3 linked regions of the Homo sapiens genome follow. The protein of the gene in region 1 purifies or fractionates together with the protein of each later gene. This does not show direct contact. Each region holds a gene or a part of one and is shown on either strand. Other genes may lie near its edges. The genes, in order: NOCT, IVNS1ABP and PINX1.

Region 1 (7,409 bases):
TGCCTTTCTGCATTTACTCCTGCTTTTTCCAAACAAAACGCTTTATAGTAATCTCTTCCAATCCTAACCATGCTTCAAGAGCCAGCTGAAATGCCACCCATTTCTAGAAGCCCAAAAGGGACTTCCTGCTTTCCTGCACCCTTGTGCCATTTCCAAGTCAAGAGAATAAAAGGTGTTTCATTTCATTAAACAGCCATTTCATTGTGCAAATCTCATCTCTTACTGGGCAGTAAACTCCTTAGGGACTGACTAAAGCTCATGTTTTTAACTCCCATAATAAAGCACCTACATTGTGTGAGACATTCTGTAAAGATCTGGAATGAGTGAACAAGCAATGAATGAATCAATGCAGGCATGTTTCTTCCAACAAGCTGCTGAAGCTAAAAATGCATGAACAGGAAAATTGTCTAGACTTTATAGTAACTGCCTACAAAAGTTTAAGTACCATAAAGTCCTTCAATTTCCTTATCTGTAAAACTAGGGGGTTTCAGGGGATTTCTTAAAAGAAGTTCATTAAACACTTTCTTGGGTCAAAAGCCCAACATTCCAATCTGACCTGATATTATTACTCAGATAACAGTAATTACTCAGATAACACAGCCATCTATGTTTTACACAAGCTAACAGTATTCCCATGAGGAGGTACCTACTAACCCTGCCTCTGAGACTTTGAGGGAATTTAAGATATAAGCTGGTACAGAAGACATCACCTGGTTTTCTTTTACTTTTCCTACCTCAAACCTCTAACAATGTTGTTCTTAAAATTTCCAGCAAGAAAAAAGTTATCAGGCAATATACTCATTCTGGCAGTTATTTCACAATGTACCACATTCCTACGAAATTGGGGGTGGGGGTGGGGAATCTAACTGTCAAGTTCACTCTAAGGAACAATATAGTTCAGAATCTCCAGCAACCAATTCAACATCCTAATTTTAAAATGACTAAGTTGGGCATGGTGGCTTCCACCTGCAAATCTCAACTGCTCCAGAGTCTGAGGATAACTCGAGGCCAGGAGTTTGATACTAGATTGGGAAATACCTAAATATCTGCCAACAATGCGAATAGTTTAAAGTCTTGGCTTCAATCACATTCCAGATGACCATTTTTAAAATATATACATTTTTTAAAATTTTTATTAATTTTGTTTTGAGACGGAGTTTTACTCTTGTCACCCAGGCTGGAGTGCAATGGTGCGATCTCGGCTCACTGCAACACTCCGCCTCCCAGGTTCAAGTGATTCTCCTGCCTCAGCCTCCAGAGTAGCTGGGATTACAGGCGAGTGCCACCACGCCCAAGCCCATTGGCCAGGATGGTCACGAACTCCTGACCTCGGGTGATCTACCCGCCTCCGCCTCCCACAGTGCTGGATTACAGGCGTGAGCCACCGCGCCCGGCCTATTTTTTTAAATTTTATAGGCCGGGGGGGCGGTGGCTCACGCCTGTAATCCCAGCACTTTGGGAGGCCAAAGCGGGAGGTTCACCTGAGCTAGGGAGTTCGAGGCCAGCCTGACCAACATGGAGAAACCCCATCTCTACTAAAAATACAAAAATCAGCCTGGCGCGGTGGCGCATGCCTGTAATCCCAGCTTCTCGGGAGGTTGAGGCAGGAGAATCGCTTGAACCCGGGAGGCAGAGGTTGCGGTGAGCCGAGATCGCGCCATTGCACTCCAGCCTGGGAAATAAGAGCAAAACTCCGTCTCAAAAAAAAAAAAAAAAAAAGTTATGTATTGCCTAGTTTTGAAAGAAAAAATTTATCAATTTTTAAAGTATAATTAATTTGTATGTAATTTGTGGCCATGGTAATGTGTGCCCAGGCAGAAACAGAGGTAGCAAAAAAGGAAAACTCAGGGTAGTTATTATGATGTATGAAAACAGCTCTTGGTGAAACTAAGGCCTCACTTTTACAAGATCTTAGATACACAGGACAAAAAATGATGTTAACTATAAAGAGTGGAAGCCTCCAAAAAAAAAAAATCCAAAGAAACGTAAAATGGCCGAGCGCGGTGGCTCACGCCTGTGATCCCAGCACTCTGGGAGGCTGAGGCGGGTGGATCACGAGGTCAGGAGTTCAAGACCAGCCTGGCCAAAATGGTGAAACCCCCGTCTCTACTAAATATACAAAAGTTAGCTAGGCGTGGTGACTGGCGCCTGTAATCCCAGCTACTCGGGAGGCTGAGGCAGGAGAATCGCTTGAACCCGGGAGCGGGAGGTTGCGGTAAGCCGATATCGTGCCACTGGACTCCAGCCTGGGTGACACAGTGAGACTCCATCTCAAAAAAAAAAAAAAAAAAAAAAAAAAAAAACAACGTAAAACGAATCAATGTGTTATTATCACGACTTAAAAAAAAAACTTAATATCTAGACCATGAAAGCTATATAAGCAAATAAGCATCATTTAGATTTTTTTTTCCATAAAAATTTCCGTTAAGTCGTGCAATAAAAAATGTAACCAACATAGTAACTCGCGGCCTCGGAAGGGGGAAATTTAACGGTCAAGAACAAGAAATTCTGAAAGCATGGCCTCTAAGGGTCAAGCGGGAACCTGAATACAGTCTCCCAGTTCTTACTAGCTTTGATGCAAGCCCCAGGCAAGTCGGGGAACAGGGAAAGAGGAAAAAGGGAACGCAGAAGGTTGCTCCGGTAAAGGACCCACTTTCAGGCCAGACTCCACGACCGGCAGCCCCGGGCTTCTCATTCATTCCGCGCGGTCTCCAGGTGGCGGCCGCGCGTTGGCGGCCGTGGCGTTCTCCGCCCGGAACTGGGGTGCACTCACCTGTTCGGGAACACGACCTCGCGGCGCCCGAGGCCGCCGAGGCCGCCGCCAGCAGCCGGGGGGATGCGGGCCTGGGAACAGCAGCCGGCGGGGACAACGGGCGGCGCAGCCCTGGGGCGGGCAGGCGGCGCAGGCCGGGCGCGTCCCTCTGCAGCAGGGCCGAGCAGAGCCGCCGCGGACTATGAAACATGCCGGGCGCCGCCGCCACCACGGCCCCTCGCGCGCCCGAGGAGCGGAGCCCGGCTGGGGCCGAGGGCACCGAGTCGAGCCGACTGTCCGGGCAGTGTGGGCGGATGCTCCCAGGCTCCTTCTCGCGCGGCGCAGGTTCTGGGGAAATCCCGGGCAGCAGAGCCGGAGAGGGAGGTGCAACACCGCTGCGTCGGCACCGTCTGCTGTGAGACCTGGCGAGACCTGCAGGGCGCCCGGCGAGCGCTGCGCGCTGACAAAGCGGGCGCTACCAAGCGGGAGCTGGAGGGGAATCCGCGGGACCCGGCCACTGCGCGGCCACGCCAGGCTCCCTCGACCCGGCGTAATCCTGTTTTAAAAGGAAGCGGGGCTTAGGCTGATTTATAGATAGAATCCGCAGGCGGTCTAAAATAAGAGGTATCCGTTGGAGCTGTTCTGAAGAAAAAAGCGTCCCCTTCCGCTGGCCAGCATGGAAGCGCCCACAGGCTGGGAATCCCGAGACAGTTCCAGGGCTGTGGCCCAGGGGACACGTGTCTGTCAGAGTGGCAGACGGCCTACGTGTGTGCCTGCGCGGGTCTGTGTGGATACAGCAAAAGGCGTCCGCCTCCGACCCCCTCGGCAGTGTGTGATGCGTTAAACGATATTAAGCACAATAAAGCACCGCCTGTGGGCGAGGCGACGATGATTAAAACAGCGTTCTTTTCCTCAAAAGTGTTATACTTAGGCAAAGGGAGCAGAAGGTGGCAAGGGAAGTCAGACCAGAAAGCTCTACAAGGTAGAATGAGATTATTGCCACAAGATGCCAAAGATTGGCTATAGAGATGACAACAGGCCCGGGCTCTCTAGAAGGTTCATTAGAAGGATTGGCATTTGAGTTGGCCTATGACGTGGAGGTCTAGAATTTACCCACGTGAAACTTTGGAGGGGGTGGTGGTGAGTTATAAATGAAAAAAGTAAATAAGGGTGTATTTGGGGAAACAACTCTTAGTCATGTAAGATGGAAGCTAAGGAGTAAGAGGACAGATGCGTGGATAGGTTGTAGTGTGGAAGGAAGGGGATTATAGTAGGCTTAATTCGGTGGATAGCTGCGAGCCGTTGACGTTTTGTAAGCTGAGCAAAGACATGGTCAGGGCTGTGCTTTAATTGGAAATCACATGTCTCTGGTTCATGAAAAGGCAGAAAGGAAATCAGCTGAGATAACAGATACTGTAGACCCGCACCAGGTTACTGTTACTGGAAAAGAAAGGATGGAAGAAACATCTCAGACAGGCTGGGCAGGAAATGATGACTAATCAGGAATAGAAATGGGATGAGGGGGAGGGAAAACCCAAGACTGGATTTTTCTCTGAATGATTCATGAGTTAGAAATGTATTCTATTGGTTTTCCCATGATTTTGCTGATTCCCCTGTGTTGTGGAATTGCAAGCTTTTCATCACAAGAATATTCTAAATATTTTTCAGACCTAGGTTACATATCTAACACCTGTGGATAGAGGGTGTGGACAGATCAGCTGGCACAAGTTGATTACAACTTCTGGCAGACAAGCTCCTTGGAAGTCATTAAAGCCTCAGTTTCAGTTTCCTTATCTATAAAACATAGAATCATACCTTAGTCATTAGGTGAAATAAAAAATGATAATAAGCTACTCTGGGCACACTGTCTATCGAGTAGTCCTGCTCCACAAGGAGCAGTACTTGTAAAAAGAATTTTTTTAAAAAGGTGATAATAAAATTAGCCTATGAAAAGTGTTTTGCAAATATAGCAAAATGTTGATTTTGAATCTAGGTAGTGGGTATATATGGGTATAGGGACCATGGGAAAAATGTTCCCTTTGCCCTCTGAAGTTTGCTGAAAAATCAACTCACAAAAGGCAGATTAATGGGAGAAAAGGCATATGCATTTATTAACATGTACATGGGGAGAATCACAGAGTGATTACACACCCCCAACGGGGTTCAGAAGCTTGTCTACCATCCTGGCCAACAGACTTGGGGAGAGGGGAGCAGAGGCATTCTGTTGAGGAGATGACTAGGGAAAGTGAATGGATCAGGGCACAGGGATGAACTTGCACATTATCTTGTGAAAGGGTCTGTTCAGGTGGTTACATTTTTGGTCTTACAAGGAGGGGAAGAAAAAACAATTGTTCCTTTTGGTGGGTTCGGATTGTAGCCAGATAAAGGAACTTCAACTTCATCCTGTGCTTTGGGAGAGATGGTGCTGGGCAGTGAGGTCAGAGAGACCTTGAGGCTTCCATTCAGCCGGTCAAAGCCCCATATTTTGGGCTATCAGTTTCTGAGTCCCGACACAAGTGTTCACTTACAATTATTTTTCCCCCATATATTTGGAGATTTTCATAATAAAATGTTGGGGAAAAGTGCTTTGAAAAATGAAAAAATAACTGTTCAAATATAAACTGTCACTATTTAAAGAGATTCAAAGAGCATGCTATCCTGAAAGTGCATCATATTATTTATTTTTTTTTTATTTATTTATTTGAGATGGAGTCTGTCGCTCTGTTGCCCAGGCTGGAGTACAGTGGCGTCATCTTGGCTCCCTGCAACCTCCGCCTCCCGGGTTCCAGCCATTCTCCTGCCTCAGCCTCTGGAGTAGCTCTGACTACAGGCGCACACCACCACGCCTGGCTAATTTTTGTATTTTTTAGTAGAGACAAGGTTTCATCATATTGTCCAGGCTGGTCTCAAACTCCTGACCTCAGGTGATCCCCTCGCCTCAGTCTCCCAAAGTGCTGGGATTACAGGCATGAGCCACCACGCTCGGCCTGAATCATATTTTTTATAATATATTAAACACTAAGCAATCAGAAAGATAGAAATTAAAACTTATTCCCTTGAAAATTTATTCAGTAAACATTTGTTGAATACACATTATGTGCCAGGCTCTATATTAGAGCATACAAAAATAAATTGAACAAAATCTATTGACAGTTTAGGGGGTAAGACATTGTATAAACAAAAATACTTGTAATTATCTGCTAATAAGTACAGAATCACTTATGGACAAAGTATTGTGGGACCAGAGAAGAGGAAATGTTACTGGAAAGGGGTCCCAATCCAGACCCCAAAAGAGGGTTCTTGAATATTACACAAGAAAGAATTCAGGACGAGCTCATAAAGTGAAACCAAATTTATTAGAGAAGTAAAGAAATAAAAGAATGGTTACTCCATAGGCAGAGCAGCACTGAGGGCTGCTTATGGCTTTTTCTTTTTCTTTTTTTTTTTTTTAATTGAGATGAAGTCTCGCTCTGTCACCCAGGCTGGAGTGCAACGGCACGATCTCGGCTCACTGCAACCTCCACCTCCCAGGTTCAAGTGATTCTCCTGCTGAGCCCACAGAGTAGCTGGGATTACAGATGCGTGCCACCTCACCCAGGTAATTTTTTTATTTCTATTTTTAGTAGAGATGGGGTTTCGCCATGTAGGCCAGGCTGGTCTCAAACTCATGATCTCAAGTGATCCACCTGCCTCCCAAAGTGCTGGGATTACAGGCGTGAGCCACTGCGCCCGGCCTTGTTGGCTATTTTTATGGCTATTTCTTGATTACATGCTAACTAGGGAGAGGGTTATTCGTGAATTTTCCAGGAAAGGGGCAAGGATTTCCCAGGACTGAGGATTTCTCTGCCTTTTAGACTATATAGGGTAACTTCTGGATGTTGCTGTGCCATTTATAAACTGTCACGGCACTGGTGGGAGTGTCTTTTATCATGTTAATGCATTATAATTAGCGTACAATAAACAGTGAGAACAACTAGAGGTCACCTTCATCACCATCTTGGTTGTTGTGGGTTTTGGCTGGTTTCTTTTTTTTTTTGAGATGGAGTCTCGCTCTGTCACCCAGGCTGGAGTGCAATGGCACGGTCTCGGCTCACTGTAACCTCCGCCTCCCGGGTTCCAGCAATTCTCCTGCCTCAGCCTCCCGAGTAGTTAGGCCTACAGGCGCATAGTAGTCCTACGCGCCTGGCTAAATTTGTATTTTTTTTTAGTAGAGACTGGGTTTCTCCATGTTGGCCAGGCTGGTCTTGAACTCCTGGCCTCCCGAGTAGTTAGGACTACAGGCGCGTAGTAGTCCAACACACCTGGCTAAATTTGTATTTTTTTTTAGTAGAGACTGGGTTTCTCCATGTTGGCCAGGCTGGTCTTGAACTCCTGGCCTCGTGATCCGTCTGCTGAGCCAATGCGCCCGGCCGGCTGGTTTCTTTTTCACATCCTGTTTCATCCGCTGAGTCTTTATGATCTATATCTTGTGCTGACCTCCTATCTCATCCTGTGACTAGGAATCCCTAACCTCCTGGCAATGCAGCCCAGTAGGTCTCAGCCTCTATTCAACATAGAGTTGCTCTGGCTCCAACACCTCTGACAGAAATAACTAATTGCCTAGAGAAGTCAGGAGAGGCGTTTTGAACAAAGTGACTACCAAGTGGAAAGGTATCAC
Region 2 (7,164 bases), on another chromosome or scaffold:
GGCTAGAGAACTGAGTTAACTTCTATTGTGTTATGATATGAGCATTCCATTTCAGTTTGTGCCTTCCATATGTTTGGTGCTACATATGTTTGTGTTGTAGTGAAAGAATTACAAAACTATGAGCATGGATAGAATGAATGAGTTCAGCGAGTTTTCATATACATGGATGGTGATGGTGGTTTTAGAGGTTACTTTGGAAAGCTGTAACTTCTGGTTTTAAAAAGATGTGTTGATTTACTTTGTATTATAAAGTCTTTCCTTTAAAAATGCAGCTGATGGCTACTTGGTGGGAGCTGACTGCCCTCAAACGATTGTCTTTTGTTTTATCTTGGTCTTACTGAAGGCCAGAGAAAAATTTTAGCAGAGGCCATATTGTGCCTACCTTTTTAACAACTCTTTGATAAGACCTGTTGAATTGTATTTCACTTAAGCTAATCTTTCCGGGCTGTGAACTTCTGGGTGTTATTAAAGCAGTTTAATTACTCATTTATGAGTCTTCGGTATCCCTTGCAGTGGCCATAGAAGTATGCTGAATTTATCTGAATATATTGTATTTGATCCTAGTTTTAATTTTAAATGTGTAAGAAAAGTGACCTAGGTGTAGATTTAGTTGAAAGTGTATTTTAAACACCAAACAATTCTACGTTTCATACTCTTATATGACTCTGGGATGTCTGGACTTTTGGTTTGGATTTTCAAAGAAAACAATTTTCCCCATTTTTTAATTCCACTAGTTATCGTGCTTGAGTTTTATAGACCAAATAAGATCTCCCGTCAATTTGGGGAGTAGTTTAAAACTCTTGATTTGCCCTAGCTCACTTTAATGAAAGTAAATAGGAACTTTCAAAAACATGGTTTTACAGACAGGAATTGATCTGATCCCCTCCAAACTTGAGGTGGGCGGGAAGTAGGTATATAGTGTATGAGGACAATAATTGAATAAAGTAAGTTTGCATTAACTTAAATGTCATCTAGATTTGGGCTGGCTTTTAAAATCAAGTAGCTTTGTACTCTGATCAGTAGATATTAAAGAGATGAGGTTCATATTATGACCTTGATGTACTAAAAATCAGGTACTGTCATGGAATTAGAGTAAAAACTAAATAAAAATCAAGCACTAAATACAGGATTCATTTTACTGCAAAACTCATAATAATATTGTACAAATTTGTCTGATGCAAATTGCCCCAAAAATTCTCCAGTGTTTTCTCCAAGGGCTGCAGTAATTTTAACCATTTTTTTCCAAAATAAATTTTAGGTAGATCATTCAATTTGTCAAATATAGTAAGTGGATACCATTTTTATTTTTTGTTAGATCAAGTTTACAAGTAAAAAGTGAGTAAAACTGGTCAAAGTTTAAAATAGTACCTTCATATTATAATGTTTTTGGCTTTTCAGAGGATGCATTTTAATATAACAATTTGCATGGGGACTCCTTCCTCTTATTTTAAGAGCAGCTTATGAAACTGAAGTTAGGAGTTGCCAACTATGCCTGTGAATTGACCATGCCAGTATAAATCATATATATATGAAAATTTTCTTAGTTTGAGCCAGGTCTTGGCTGAAAATGTTTGAAGGTTTCTTTAGGATAGTGTGTTCTCTCTGTGTAGAAAGAATTATGTATATTTGGAAAACATTTGTTAGAACTAGTTTCTTAGAGAAAAGCCAAATTAACTAACCTAGATAAAAGGTAGAGCAGAGGAAATCAATATTACCTAATGCTGTGATATAGTTTTGATGCAAGGGTAAGCATTCACAACAATCCCAACCCGAATTGGCATTATTGGGTTTCCTTGAAATGAAACCTGTTACAGAGAGACCTGTTAGGACACATGTTGAACTAAACATAGTAGGTTTGTTGAATTCGAACTGGACCAGCCTGCAGTGGAGTCCTGTGGTAAGTGATTATTCACTTTGACGTAATTGTTAGATTTAGAATTGTTGTATTGATGTATAAGGCAAATAATCTTAAGATATCCATAAAAATGAATATATTTGCACGTATTTCAGGTAAGTTATTCCTTAGTTCTGGTTTCCAGAGTTAATAGTGGTGTAATAGCAGTTCAGGTGATTACAAAATAAGTACCATCAGAATTTGACACTAGTAATTGATGATGTGAAAATGAGGGAGGGAGAATAGGTAGGAGGACTGATTACCTTGAAGATTAGGTTTGAACCAGAATGATTCCATTGGTAGTTTATTACTGTGTATGAGAAAAATGATTATACAAAGCACAGGCATCAGTATTTTCCCTTCTGTTTAGTTTATTCCAACAAATTACTCATCTTTATGTTCAAGTTTTTAGGCTAGTCCTGGTAGAGAGGAGATGGGATGGATACAAAAGATGAACAAGACAGAAGGTTTGCCCATGAGTCAAGGAAGATAAACAAGTATATATAAATACAGCATGAATATAAATACAGCATGAAACAGACCAGCTGGAAGATCATAAATACCCCTCAGATAGGGTTCTAAATGTGGAGGATGAGGAGAAACTGCTTCCCAACTGGGAGCATTTGGCAGAGGCTCTATGGCTGTAAGATTTCCTCTGGCAGAGGTTGGGTTAAGGGCCTTCCAGGTAGAGAGAAGAACTTGAACAAAGTTAACAGAGCCTGGGAAGTGCAGAGTTCATTTTGAGGAACAGTAACATAGTATATATGCTTGGGAATAATGCCTAAGGTTGCTTGCTGGCTCAAAACAGATCTCATGTTTGCATATTAGTTGGAAATTAATAATAAAGAATATTAGAATTAAACAGTATTGACATTTGTTTTGTAGTCTTGTGCTTTTATACCTCTCATAAACATAGGTCATTAGCCCCTGCCCTTTGGGAAAGGACTTTTTTTTTTTTTTTTAATCACTTGGGTTGTTGCAAGTTAAATGAAAAATGTTTATGTGGAATTGCATTTGTGTTCTTTTTTTATGTAATGGGAATATTTTTGCCATTTATGTCAAATCTCTTGAAGATCAGGACTTGTTTTACATGATCTGCTCTACCTAGATCAATGACAGTCTTTGATTATTCTGAATATCTAACTTAAATTTATCATTGTTATAGATTATGATGCATCATTATCACAGAAGAAATTCGTGTCTATAGCTTTTAAGGACTTGATTACATCATTTTCAAGCCTGATAGTTTTGGAATCACCATTAGAGCTTAAGACACACCTGCCTTCATTTCAACCACCTGTCTTCATACCCTGACGAAGTGCACCTTTTAACACTCCTTTGTCCTTGGATTACTTAAGAGTTCCCAGAAATACATTTGCCACCAACAGAGTAGGTAAGTGAATGTTCTCTGCCTAGTCCAGTATTAAGACACATTGTTTTTCTGAAGACGGATGTCGAGTACAGTAAACCTTTCATACTCTTTTTTTAAAGGCAGAGAAGTCAGTAATCATTTGAGTATAAAAAACATCATATTTTTCTTTTCTATATTTTGACTTTAAATAAATCAGTAACTTCAAATTAAAATTTCTTACTGCCTTTTTTTTTTTCCTTAAAGAGATAAGATCTCTGTTGTCCAGGCTGGAGTGCAGTGGTGGGATCATAGCTCACTGCAGCCTGGAACTCCTGGGCTCAAGTGCTTCTCCTGCCTCAGCCTTCCTAGTAACTGGGACTACAGGTGTGCGCCACCACCATGACTGCCTAATTTTTACATTTTTTGTAGAGACAGGATTTCACTATGTTTCCCAGACTGGTCTCAAACTCCTGGGCTCAAGCAATCTTCTTGCCTTGGCCTCCCTATTACTGTTCTTTATTTTATTTTATTTTTTTAAGATGGAGTCTCTCTGTTGCCCAGGCTGGAGTACAGTGGCACAATCTCAGCTGACTGCAACCTTTGCCTCCCAAGCAATTCTCCTGCCTCAGCCCCCACAAGTAGCTGGGATTACAGGCGCCCGCCACCATGCCTGGCTAAATTTTGTATTTTTAGTAGAGATAGGGTTTCACCATGTTGGCCAGGCTGGTCTTGAACTCCTGACCTCAAATGATCCACCTGTCTCGGCCTCCCAAAGTGCTGGGATTACAGGTGTGAGCCATAGCGCCCAGCCTATCACTGTTTTTTAATTATGCATTTTGTGTAGTCATTAGTCAGTTGTTTATAAGTAATGGTAAAATGCAAAAAAGTTGTAAGTTCCCATTTATATTTATATAATCTGATGAGATAAGTGATTTAGAATATATGAAAGAAAGGAACAGAATATAAGTTCATCTTTTTAAATCACTGTATATGTTTCAAAACATTTATAAAAATAATTTCGTAGATACAGTGACAAGACTAATCAGACTTTTTAAGTTTGTGTACTAGGCAAGGGAGGAAGACATTAGGCAATTTTCTGCATATAAATCTTGATTATATATAATTTTGAAGACTAGAAGCAAATTGGGGGCCCTTTAAGACAACTGAAAAAGGCTAGGATTAGGATAAGTAACAGTTTTTCTCATTTGTGGGTAAAGGAATGACAGGAGCCCAAATCCAAGGAAACCTATATGTACTGGCTATTTCACCCTTTCAGGCTTTTAGATTACTTATTATATGGGTTTGGGCAGGATGGAGTTTCGTTTCCTTCCCTTCCCTTCCCTTCAGAATGAATTTGCTTAATGGGCATGGGAACCTGGCCAAAATTGTCGAGATAGCTGCTACTGTTTGAATCCTTTAAAAGTCTTATGACCAAAGTATTAGGGAACAAAGACTTGGACATTCAACACAGGTGTTGTTTCAGCTAAGTTTTTGTGTGATGAAATTTTTATGTGTTGTTTATAGGATGGAATTTGAGAATAAAGAGACTGTATTACTCTTTAGCATTATATTTTTAAAACCATCAGTTGCAAGTAAAATAACTCAGCTTTCTTTTCATCATCTAGCCAAATTTATAAGGAAAAATGATTCCCAATGGATATTTGATGTTTGAGGATGAAAATTTTATTGAGTCTTCTGTTGCCAAATTAAATGCCCTGAGGAAAAGTGGCCAGTTCTGTGATGTTCGACTTCAGGTATTTAAAACTTAATTCAAAATTTATAGAATTTTTTATTACTAAAAGCCATAAGTTCTTAGATTTGCTTATTTCTTTTTCATAGGCATTTAATGAAATGATTTTTTAAAAGAATACTGAGAAATGTAAGATAAAGGAATCTGATATAGTAATTAGCTAGAGAAGCACATAATCCACAATACTTATAATTATAATTCTTCATAATTTCAGGTCTGTGGCCATGAAATGTTAGCACACAGAGCAGTGCTAGCTTGCTGCAGTCCCTATTTATTTGAAATCTTTAATAGTGATAGTGATCCTCATGGAATTTCTCACGTTAAATTTGATGATCTCAATCCAGAAGCTGTTGAAGTCTTGTTGAATTATGCCTACACTGCTCAGTAAGTACATTTGAAGTAAACCATATAATTAGGGAATATCTTCAGAAAATTCCAAGTCTTGCTACATATATTTAAATTAAGTGTGTTTTAAGGCTTTGGTATCATAAGTAACTTTTTTTTTAAATAGGTTGAAAGCAGATAAGGAATTGGTAAAAGATGTTTATTCTGCAGCAAAAAAGCTGAAGATGGATCGAGTAAAGCAGGTAGAGTATCAGAAGTAAATAAAATCATTTATGGAGTCTTATTTTGTGTGATTGCAATGCTGAATTTGTCATAAAACATCTTGTTAGTTTCAAGGACTTGAACATGTCCCTTTTTTCCCTCAGAGTAGTCAATATGTTATTTTAACTGTTTGGCTATAATAATGTAGCAAGATCACACTTCTTCTCAGATAATTTGGGCTGAAGTCTGACCCTTTCAGCAATCTTCTCTGGTAGGGTGGCTATGTCAGCCTTTGATAGCATGAATTAAAATTAATATTTTTCTTAAGAGTTAATCACATAACTTATATCCTCAATTCTGTGTTCTCCTAAACTTCCTGTGCTCTCTAAAAGTATTCCTTCTAGAATTTAATGCCAGTAAAAAGTACTTTTGGAAAACAGGCATTTAATCCCCTAATGCATGGGGGTCAGTAAACTTAAGGCCTACTGGCCAGCTGCCTATTTTTATAAAGTTTTATTCAAACACAGCCATGTGTGTTCATTTACATATGGTCTACACTGCTTTCCAGCTACAGTGACGGAATTGAGCAGTTGTGACAAACAGAATGGCCTACAAGCCTAAAATGCTTTTACTATCTGGCCCTTTAAGAAAAAGTTTGATTTGCTAGCCCTTCTTCTAATACCACTCCTTTGTTCAAAAATCCTTCCTTAATTTACAGTACATATCCCTGCATTTAGTTTCTAGATTTTCCCTTATATAGTTGCTGTCTTTCCAAAACTATTTCCTAGTTATCTTTTCTCCAACCAAATTAAATTGTTTGCAGCATCTTCTCTACTTCTGTCTGCATTCAACATCAACATCATCTCTCCTGTAGAGCCCAGTTCAGATACTGCGTTTCATGAAGCCTTACCAAATTATTCTACTTGAAAATACTTATGTGAACTTACATAGCATTTCAATTTGTTGTACCTCTCCTTAAACTAAAACTTACATATCTGTATGGCATAATTAGATGTTTATCATTTGTATACGTGTTATTACCACTATTAACATTTGTTGTATTAAGACAGTGATTTTTGATTCTTTGTATCTTCACATAGTCTTTACCACACTGAACATTAAATATTTGTTGAATAAAAGATATGTAAGTGTTGGCACTCATATATTTCTTTTCCAAGGTTTGTGGTGATTATTTACTGTCTAGAATGGATGTTACCAGCTGCATCTCTTACCGAAATTTTGCAAGTTGTATGGGAGACTCCCGTTTGTTGAATAAGGTTGATGCTTATATTCAGGAGCATTTGTTACAAATTTCTGAAGAGGAGGAGTTTCTTAAGCTTCCAAGGCTAAAGGTAAGGAGTAAAGTCTATAAACAGATATATACTATCTAGTTCCAGGCGTGGAATCTTGGTCTGTGTTTCAAGCAAGTGAGTAATGATTATGAAATAATACATTGAAATTATATTGTTATTCTTAGCAGCGTAATGGGTTTCTCCCTACCAGTTTGTTTACTTTGTTTTTGATTCAGTAATCAAATTCCTTACAAATTCCTGGTTCCTTACAAATTCCTGGTTCCTTACAAATTAGAGTAAATGTATGGAATGAATTGTGCATCTGTGACAA
Region 3 (7,000 bases), on another chromosome or scaffold:
CCATTTGGGCTGAGGCTGGCAGTAAGGTGAGGAGGAGTGCCTGTGAGGCAGGAAGTGCTTTCGGGTTGAAGACTATAAGGAATATGCTCGGAGTCAAATCAATGTCTGCAGCAACTCTGCCCACAGAGACTCTGGAAATAAGTCATTAAGCAATCATGCTAAACTTAGGTTTTCATAGTCACCCAACTTCTTCCTTCATACTCATTTATCTCACAAGAAGAGGCTGGGTGTTCTACGCTTTCATGATGGGAGGGTGGGAAACGGCTCCTGAATAAAGAAATCTCCAAATCAGGATTCTACTAATGATCCTAAACTTGGCTGGCAAGGTTCTGCTTGTGCAGGTAACTGAATTACAAACCACCTATAAACAGACCCTGTATTGTCTCGACACAGTGGTCCTCAAAAGCCACCTCAGTGGAATCCAAGATAATGTCCCAGTTGCAGTTCCAGCAGAATCGATATTAATATGTATCAATGGACAATTGGGCCTTCAGTGGCAAGTGCCTCAGACAGCTTTCACCAAGGGGTACATTAAAAAAAAAAATCATGTGGTCAATTCTGGAATTTCAAAATAGGCAGAACATGAAGAATAAATCAACTGAGTTTTGGGAAGCAGTTTTAATTTTATCTATTACTATTCAATTTGTGCTGGAATTCCATAGGGTGATTTTGAGAAAAATAAAAAAAATCTGCCTCAGGAGATTTGTCTTTTTGTTCTTCAAATGTTGAAAAAGAGCTGAAATGCTGCACAGCAGAGTGAAGGATCTTCTCAAGGCTCTCCCGGCACGAGCCAATCCCAGGCTCATGAACAAGAAAGATCCTGCCTCCCAAAGACGGGCACCCTCACAGCCACAGAGACAGGCTCGGTGACCAGGCACCCTCACAGCCACACAGAGACAGGCTCGGTGACCAGGCACCCTCACAGCCACACAGAGACAGGCTCGGTGACCAGGCACCCTCACAGCCACACAGAGACAGGCTCGGTGACCAGGCACCCTCAGCCACACAGAGACAGGCTCGGTGACCAGGCACCCTCACAGCCACACAGAGACAGGCTCGGTGACCAGGCACCCTCACAGCCACACAGAGACAGGCTCGGTGACCAGGCACCCTCACAGCCACACAGAGACAGGCTCGGTGACCAGGCACCCTCACAGCCACACAGAGACAGGCTCGGTGACCAGGCACCCTCACAGCCACAAAGAGACAGGCTCGGTGACCAGACACCCTCACAGCCACACAGAGACAGGCTCGGTGACCAGGCACCCTCACAGCCACACAGAGACAGACTCGGTGACGACGGCTGGCTCGTTTATGCAACAGAAGTCTCACTGACAGTTTCGCAGCACTACAGGAGCCTGCAGTCTGTGGGCCACTCTTTTGGAATGTATTTTTGAGGCTGGAACTCAGATCTGAGTCGAATCCTATGACTCCTTACCTTGCTCATCTATTTATTACCTTGTGAATTCCTGATTTTAATCACCGGAACTAATTGCTGGTATTAATCACATTTTTTATTATCAGGAAATACAAGACCATTTTTGAGTCACTTGTTGAATTCAGCGGGTCTTCGTAACTCCAGAAAGTAAGTATGCTCATATGCTCATCATCAACTTCTGGGATGTAAGTTTAATAGGCACGGGTCACTGCACAGGCTTGGCAGGGCATGGAGACAGGCTAGAGAGGGGCCAGCACCCAAGTCCTACTTCTTCCCAGCAAAGTGCTGGCCACACAATGACTGGCTAGAGAGAGCTGCTTAATGCGGGGGTAGCCACCCTCCCACATCACAGAAACGTGCCTATTTTACAAGACCATGGACTCAAAGGAAAAATACATTGAAAATCTGACTCCTGCAGGAGCAATGGCCAGGACTCATCTTTTATACACCAAAGTCGGAGACTCAGTTTCACTGCAGAGATTCTAATCCTGCTTCTGCATTCTTGACCATGGCATCACATAAAAATAGATACATCTTTTCAAGAAAACTAATGCTTTTACATCTGGTCTCTATCAAAGTAAACAAGTATTGAGAAAACAAGTTACTTTTAAGCATTTTGAAATGACAATAACTTGCATTTTCCCACATTTCCATTAAACACACAATACACCTCAAAAAATAAAATAAAAAAAAATTTAAATGCGACATTCACTGCTTCATAAACGTTGAGAATGTCTGTTTGCTAACTGTGTGCCAAAACCTAATGAAACAAATTTAAGAGTAACTTGAAAACTTCTGGTTCCATATAAAATACTACCAAGAAATATGGTTAATCATCTTGCCAAATGTGATTTAAGCTCAGGGATTCGGGAAATGTCTCTCTCTCTTTTTCAAATTCCAATGCTTGCTGTTCAGCTAAAGGAGGTTTTTGCCACTAATGGCAAAAACCGTGATTACTTTTGCACCAACCTAATAAAATAAGCAGGACTGGCCTAGTCTGTTCACAGCAAGCCTCACAGTCCTCTCCCTTCCTTCAGCGCTAATGAGTGCATCACATGTGTCAAAAACATTTGATGACTGACTTTCCCAAATGGTAAGTGGGCCTTAATTTCTACCCAATCAATAAGTACTTGTGGCTTTGAACTGAGATGACTCTGGAGCACCTGTTCCCCAGTTCACAGAGCCCTGAGAGTTTAAAGCCAGGCCCATGGGATCACCCTGCTCAATCATTTGAGGAAGCTTCACCCAAAGTGATCAGGCCTGGGTGTCCTGAGGAAGGCAGCTATCACCACCGTGCCAGGCACTTGACATCAAGTGGCATCTCAGCCAACTCTTGCTGCAACCTGAGGAGAGGCGTCCTCTCCACATCACACAGGCAGAGAGTGAGACTCCTAGCACTTAATCCGCAGAAGGTCTCACAGCTGGAACACAGCAGGAGAGAGACAGCCCTAAGGCTGCCAGGTGCAAAGCCCTTGCTCCCTGTACCACAGGACCCCGACTCCTAGCTCCCACCTCATGGACTGCCTTGTCACCTTTCCTCTCTCTTCAGAAGCCACCCCAAAACTAAAGTATGTATCAATTGACCACATAATCCAGAGACTAAGGTCTACACTCACCTAAGTTGACTGATGCAGAAAAAATATCCACAGAAATAGTACTTTCAAAAGAGAAAAAAACTACATCATTTTGGTTTGCAATTCATATAAATAAAAAACAGCCTGAAGCCAGGCTTAAAAGAGTTTTATAATTTATCAAACTAGCATGTACATTCACTTGAAAAAGTTTGACTGTTTTAAAGCACAGAGTAAAACCCAAGTCCAAACCTTCCACCCAGGCAAGAAGCCCTCTTGGGCAGATGCTGGACAGCTTCCACCTGGACACTGCCAATATGGAAAGGTGGCTGCTGTGGTTCTCTGACTCAGTTTCCTCATCAGCAACAGGTCAATTCAGGTGGTTCATGGGCGTACACTGTGTGTCACGATTAGAGCTGGAGAATCTTAACGCCATCTCTGGCAATTCCGAATTATCACTGAGGAGAAAACAAAGAGTGGGCACAAAGGCAAGCTGACCCTGCAGAGAGTCCCTGCGGGTATCAATTACAATACACCACAGTCCTCTCCGGTCCCTGAAAGATGCCTGAAGCTACATGTATCAACTCTTCTCGGATGTCTACAGAATTAAAGTCTGTTCTGCTTCTTTTAGGATCCTCCATCTGGAGACTCTGCAGCTACATGAGTGAGTATCTGCGCAAGATCCTCTGGGCTCATGGAGGACTTTGCTCTTGTGTCATTCAAACATGTATACTGAGATGGATTATTAGTACAATGCCCAAATAGAGAGGATTCTCCATTATTCTCAAAAGAATCTTTTGGGGCAAGGAAATGAAGCAGTTTGCACAGAGACCTTAGTGAAGTGCCAGAAGCAGATGCACCTTACTACAGAATCCCCCTACTTATGATCAACATGCCAGTCCAGGAAATGGGCTTCAAAGGCAAGTCTTTCAGCTCGCCAGCCTTGCTCATACATCACTACTGATCTTAAGTGACAGGATGATGGAAGCTTTCTTATTTCCACATTAAGACACGGAGGTCATGCTGCAACAGTAATCCTTCAATGAACTTTGTTAACAAAGTAGACTCCCAGAGATCAAGGGTAATGTATTTAGCAACTGGGGTTGTGAGCCCTGATGGCTATTGCCTGTGATGAACAAATGCTCACTGCCACCACAGCCTGTCTGTCATCAGCCTGTGCTGGGTTAGTCTGTGAAAAGTTAAGAAAGCTTGGCAAGTGAGTGGTTTGACAGAACATTCTGTACCTTTTCCAAACTTTTCAGTGGGGCAGTTCTGACAAACACAAATTATGTCTTCATGTATCCCTTCAGGTATGAAGTGACTGTGTGTGACTCCTCAAAACAAAGGGATTGTGGAGACCCCACCGTCAGCTGTGTGTGTACTTTAAACTCCTCCAACAGAAGGGGCAGGATGAACTGACCCAGTCACTCCCTATGCTGGCCTACGATGTTCTTCCACATCCCCTGTACACAGTCCCGTGCATCACTTTCTTGAAGATCAAGTGTGTGACTGCTTCCTTCCACAAGTCCAATCCCAAGTGAACATCCTTTCTTGTTTATTCCCCATAATAGCAACTTGTTGCTTCTATTTTCTGTATTTGTTTAATTTGCTTTGCTAGCATCTTCCCAAGGAAACAAGTTTCTTGAGGACAGGGGCCATTTATGTTGCATTTGTATTCATACAATCCACAACCTCCCTAATGAGGAACAAGGTACAGTAAGTGCTCAACAAAGGCACAAAGACACCAAACCCAGCTGGACCAAGGCTGTGAAGAGCTCCCACCACCACCCACTGGCCCCAAATGCTTTGTGTTTGTCAGTACGAACTTGTCTGCACATCAGGCAGGTCTAATGTCCAGAAGGGGTGTGGGAGGGTAAGAAGAGAATCAGCATTTTGAGTGCAGATTCCTCCCATCCACATGAAACCACCCCCTTCTCATCAGATAGCACCTTCCCTTGCCTCGTGATGCAAACTGCTTCTCTAACTACTGCAGAGTACATCTGAGTGTCGTCTGCTGTCAGCCAGTTCCTTCCTGGCCCTTAGCAATAAATAGAAACTCAGTCCAGTGATCCATCCATTTCTCCTTCTGCTCTGTCATTCCACATGTTACCACAGTTGCCTTGGAGGGGACAAGTCAATTGGAAAAAAGCAAGGTACTGTGTGGTATGGGAACTGCCACGTTCTTTTTGTGGGATTAGTTGAACACAAGCAATGCCAGTAGAGACTGAACTGTTCTTGCTAAAGAAGAGAACTGTTCTTGGTAAAGAGAAGAGAGTTCTCGTGCATACCACATACAAAGGTAAGCAGCTCATTTGGAGAACAGCAGTGGGATGGAAGTTCCACCAGCAGCCTCTGGTAGCAAGCTGTGAAGGCACAGCCTACATTATATCTTAGCTGAAAACAACCTGGGCAAGCTGATTCTAGGGAGTCATTGAAATGGGTTTGCCACTGAAGGCTGAGCTAGGCAGTGATTCACGGCCGTTCGTTGGAAAGCCTGCCCTGAGCCACTATGGCGGGCGGCCCTGCTCTTCTCTCTATGGAACCTCTGTGGTTTCATGCTTTTCCTTCGTGGTTTCCATGTAACTGAAAACACCCAGTGTTTTATTGATGAACAGCTATTTTTACACTCACAAAAAGCTTTTCAAGTGTGAAATCTTGTACATTTTTCAAGACATTCATCGCTCACATCTGGAATTAGGCTAAACGCACCAAGTCTCGGCAATGAGCAGCCTCGGGGAATTTGCCTGGGAGACACAATCAGTTTTAGCATTAGCAAGTATCACAAGAGTCAAAAACAAATATAAAACCCCATTGACTGAAGAGAGTTGTGATTTGAAGTGGTATTAAAAAGCAAAGATACAATAACAGAATGAGAATTATGCAGCAACTCAATTGGAAAACACAGAAATTGTGTGTGCGTGCACATGTGAAACAGGTGTAAGAACCTGTGGCATGTATTAGAAGCCCACTCTGCAGGGGTTCCAGAGGGTTCTCTCTAGAACAGAGACTGGTGAACTATGGCCGTGGGCCTAGTTTTTAATGATTTTTTTTTTTTTTTACCATTTCTAAATGGTTAGGAGGAAACAAAAAACTATTTTATGACATGTAAAAATTACATGAATTTCAAATACCAGTGTCCTTAAAGTTTTGAATTTCCTCAGTAAAAATCTTGTAAAAATTTGTTTTCTTTCTCATTATACAAGTACATACAATAGGTGCTAAGTAAATATTTACTGAATAAATGTATTATAAAATCGGCTCTGTGACTGTGAATACAATACGGCTGACTTTTGGAAGTGGCAGGTGCTTTTCCAGTGCACACACACAATATACCTTTATATACACACATGTACATATATACACGTATGGAACTGGAGGACGCTGGGCTTTGACAAAGTCCTCAAGCTCTGTCTCCTGCCAACGACAGAATGCCTACCTTTCTGAACTGTGTCAGCAAGCAGCAGAGAGGCTGCTAACTGCTGCCTGCTTTTGAGTAGCAAAAGCCAGTAAAGAAAAAATTTGTTTAAAAAGTGATGTGACATCAAAGAGCACTCTCAGCAACCCAGTAAGTATGCAGAGATACCTTTCTAATATCAGGCATCAGAACTCCGCTTGGAAGTTACAAACTCAGACACACCGGACATTGGAGAAGATAATACGAACTAGAAGGGACAGAATAGCTTGGCTGGACTTTAGTAGAGAAATACACAGAATGCCAAATTCCTCATATGAAGGCCAATGGTAACAGAGCTGTTAATTTTATGTCTTTTTATTTTTATTTTTTCCCATATGCCTAACCAGCTATTCCGATTGCCACTTATTAGGAAAAGCCGACATAAACATGTTTTAAAAGGATGGTTCTCTATGGCAACAGCTTCTCAAGTAATCAACATCAGGATCACTGACAAGAGTCATCCAGCCTCTGTGGAAAAAGAGGAAAGAGAAAGAGGAGCAGGCTTCCTGCCTCCCTGAAAGGCCCTCAGGCTCGGAA

The links.
Region 2: the proteins of NOCT (region 1) and IVNS1ABP purify together in Homo sapiens (affinity purification with mass spectrometry; 2 studies listed by BioGRID and IntAct, with this or other methods). This does not show direct contact.
Region 3: the proteins of NOCT (region 1) and PINX1 purify together in Homo sapiens (affinity purification with mass spectrometry; 2 studies listed by BioGRID and IntAct, with this or other methods). This does not show direct contact.

Annotation. Positions count from the first base shown.
Region 1 is NC_000004.12:139,011,536-139,018,944, reverse strand, and holds the start of NOCT (nocturnin), read right to left. Parts: upstream 3,165-7,409; 5' UTR 2,964-3,164; coding exon 2,774-2,963; intron 1-2,773. UniProt on the Homo sapiens protein: Phosphatase which catalyzes the conversion of NADP(+) to NAD(+) and of NADPH to NADH. Shows a small preference for NADPH over NADP(+). Represses translation and promotes degradation of target mRNA molecules.
Region 2 is NC_000001.11:185,307,218-185,314,381, reverse strand, and holds part of IVNS1ABP (influenza virus NS1A-binding protein), read left to right. Parts: exon of another isoform or gene 1-1,897; intron 1,898-3,059; 5' UTR 3,060-3,287; intron 3,288-4,870; 5' UTR 4,871-4,888; coding exon 4,889-4,999; intron 5,000-5,209; coding exon 5,210-5,379; intron 5,380-5,506; coding exon 5,507-5,582; intron 5,583-6,719; coding exon 6,720-6,893; intron 6,894-7,164. UniProt on the Homo sapiens protein: Involved in many cell functions, including pre-mRNA splicing, the aryl hydrocarbon receptor (AHR) pathway, F-actin organization and protein ubiquitination.
Region 3 is NC_000008.11:10,766,876-10,773,875, forward strand, and holds part of PINX1 (PIN2/TERF1-interacting telomerase inhibitor 1), read right to left. Parts: intron 6,036-7,000; exon of another isoform or gene 3,641-6,035; intron 1,586-3,640; exon of another isoform or gene 1,525-1,585; intron 1-1,524. UniProt on the Homo sapiens protein: Microtubule-binding protein essential for faithful chromosome segregation. Mediates TRF1 and TERT accumulation in nucleolus and enhances TRF1 binding to telomeres. Inhibits telomerase activity. May inhibit cell proliferation and act as tumor suppressor.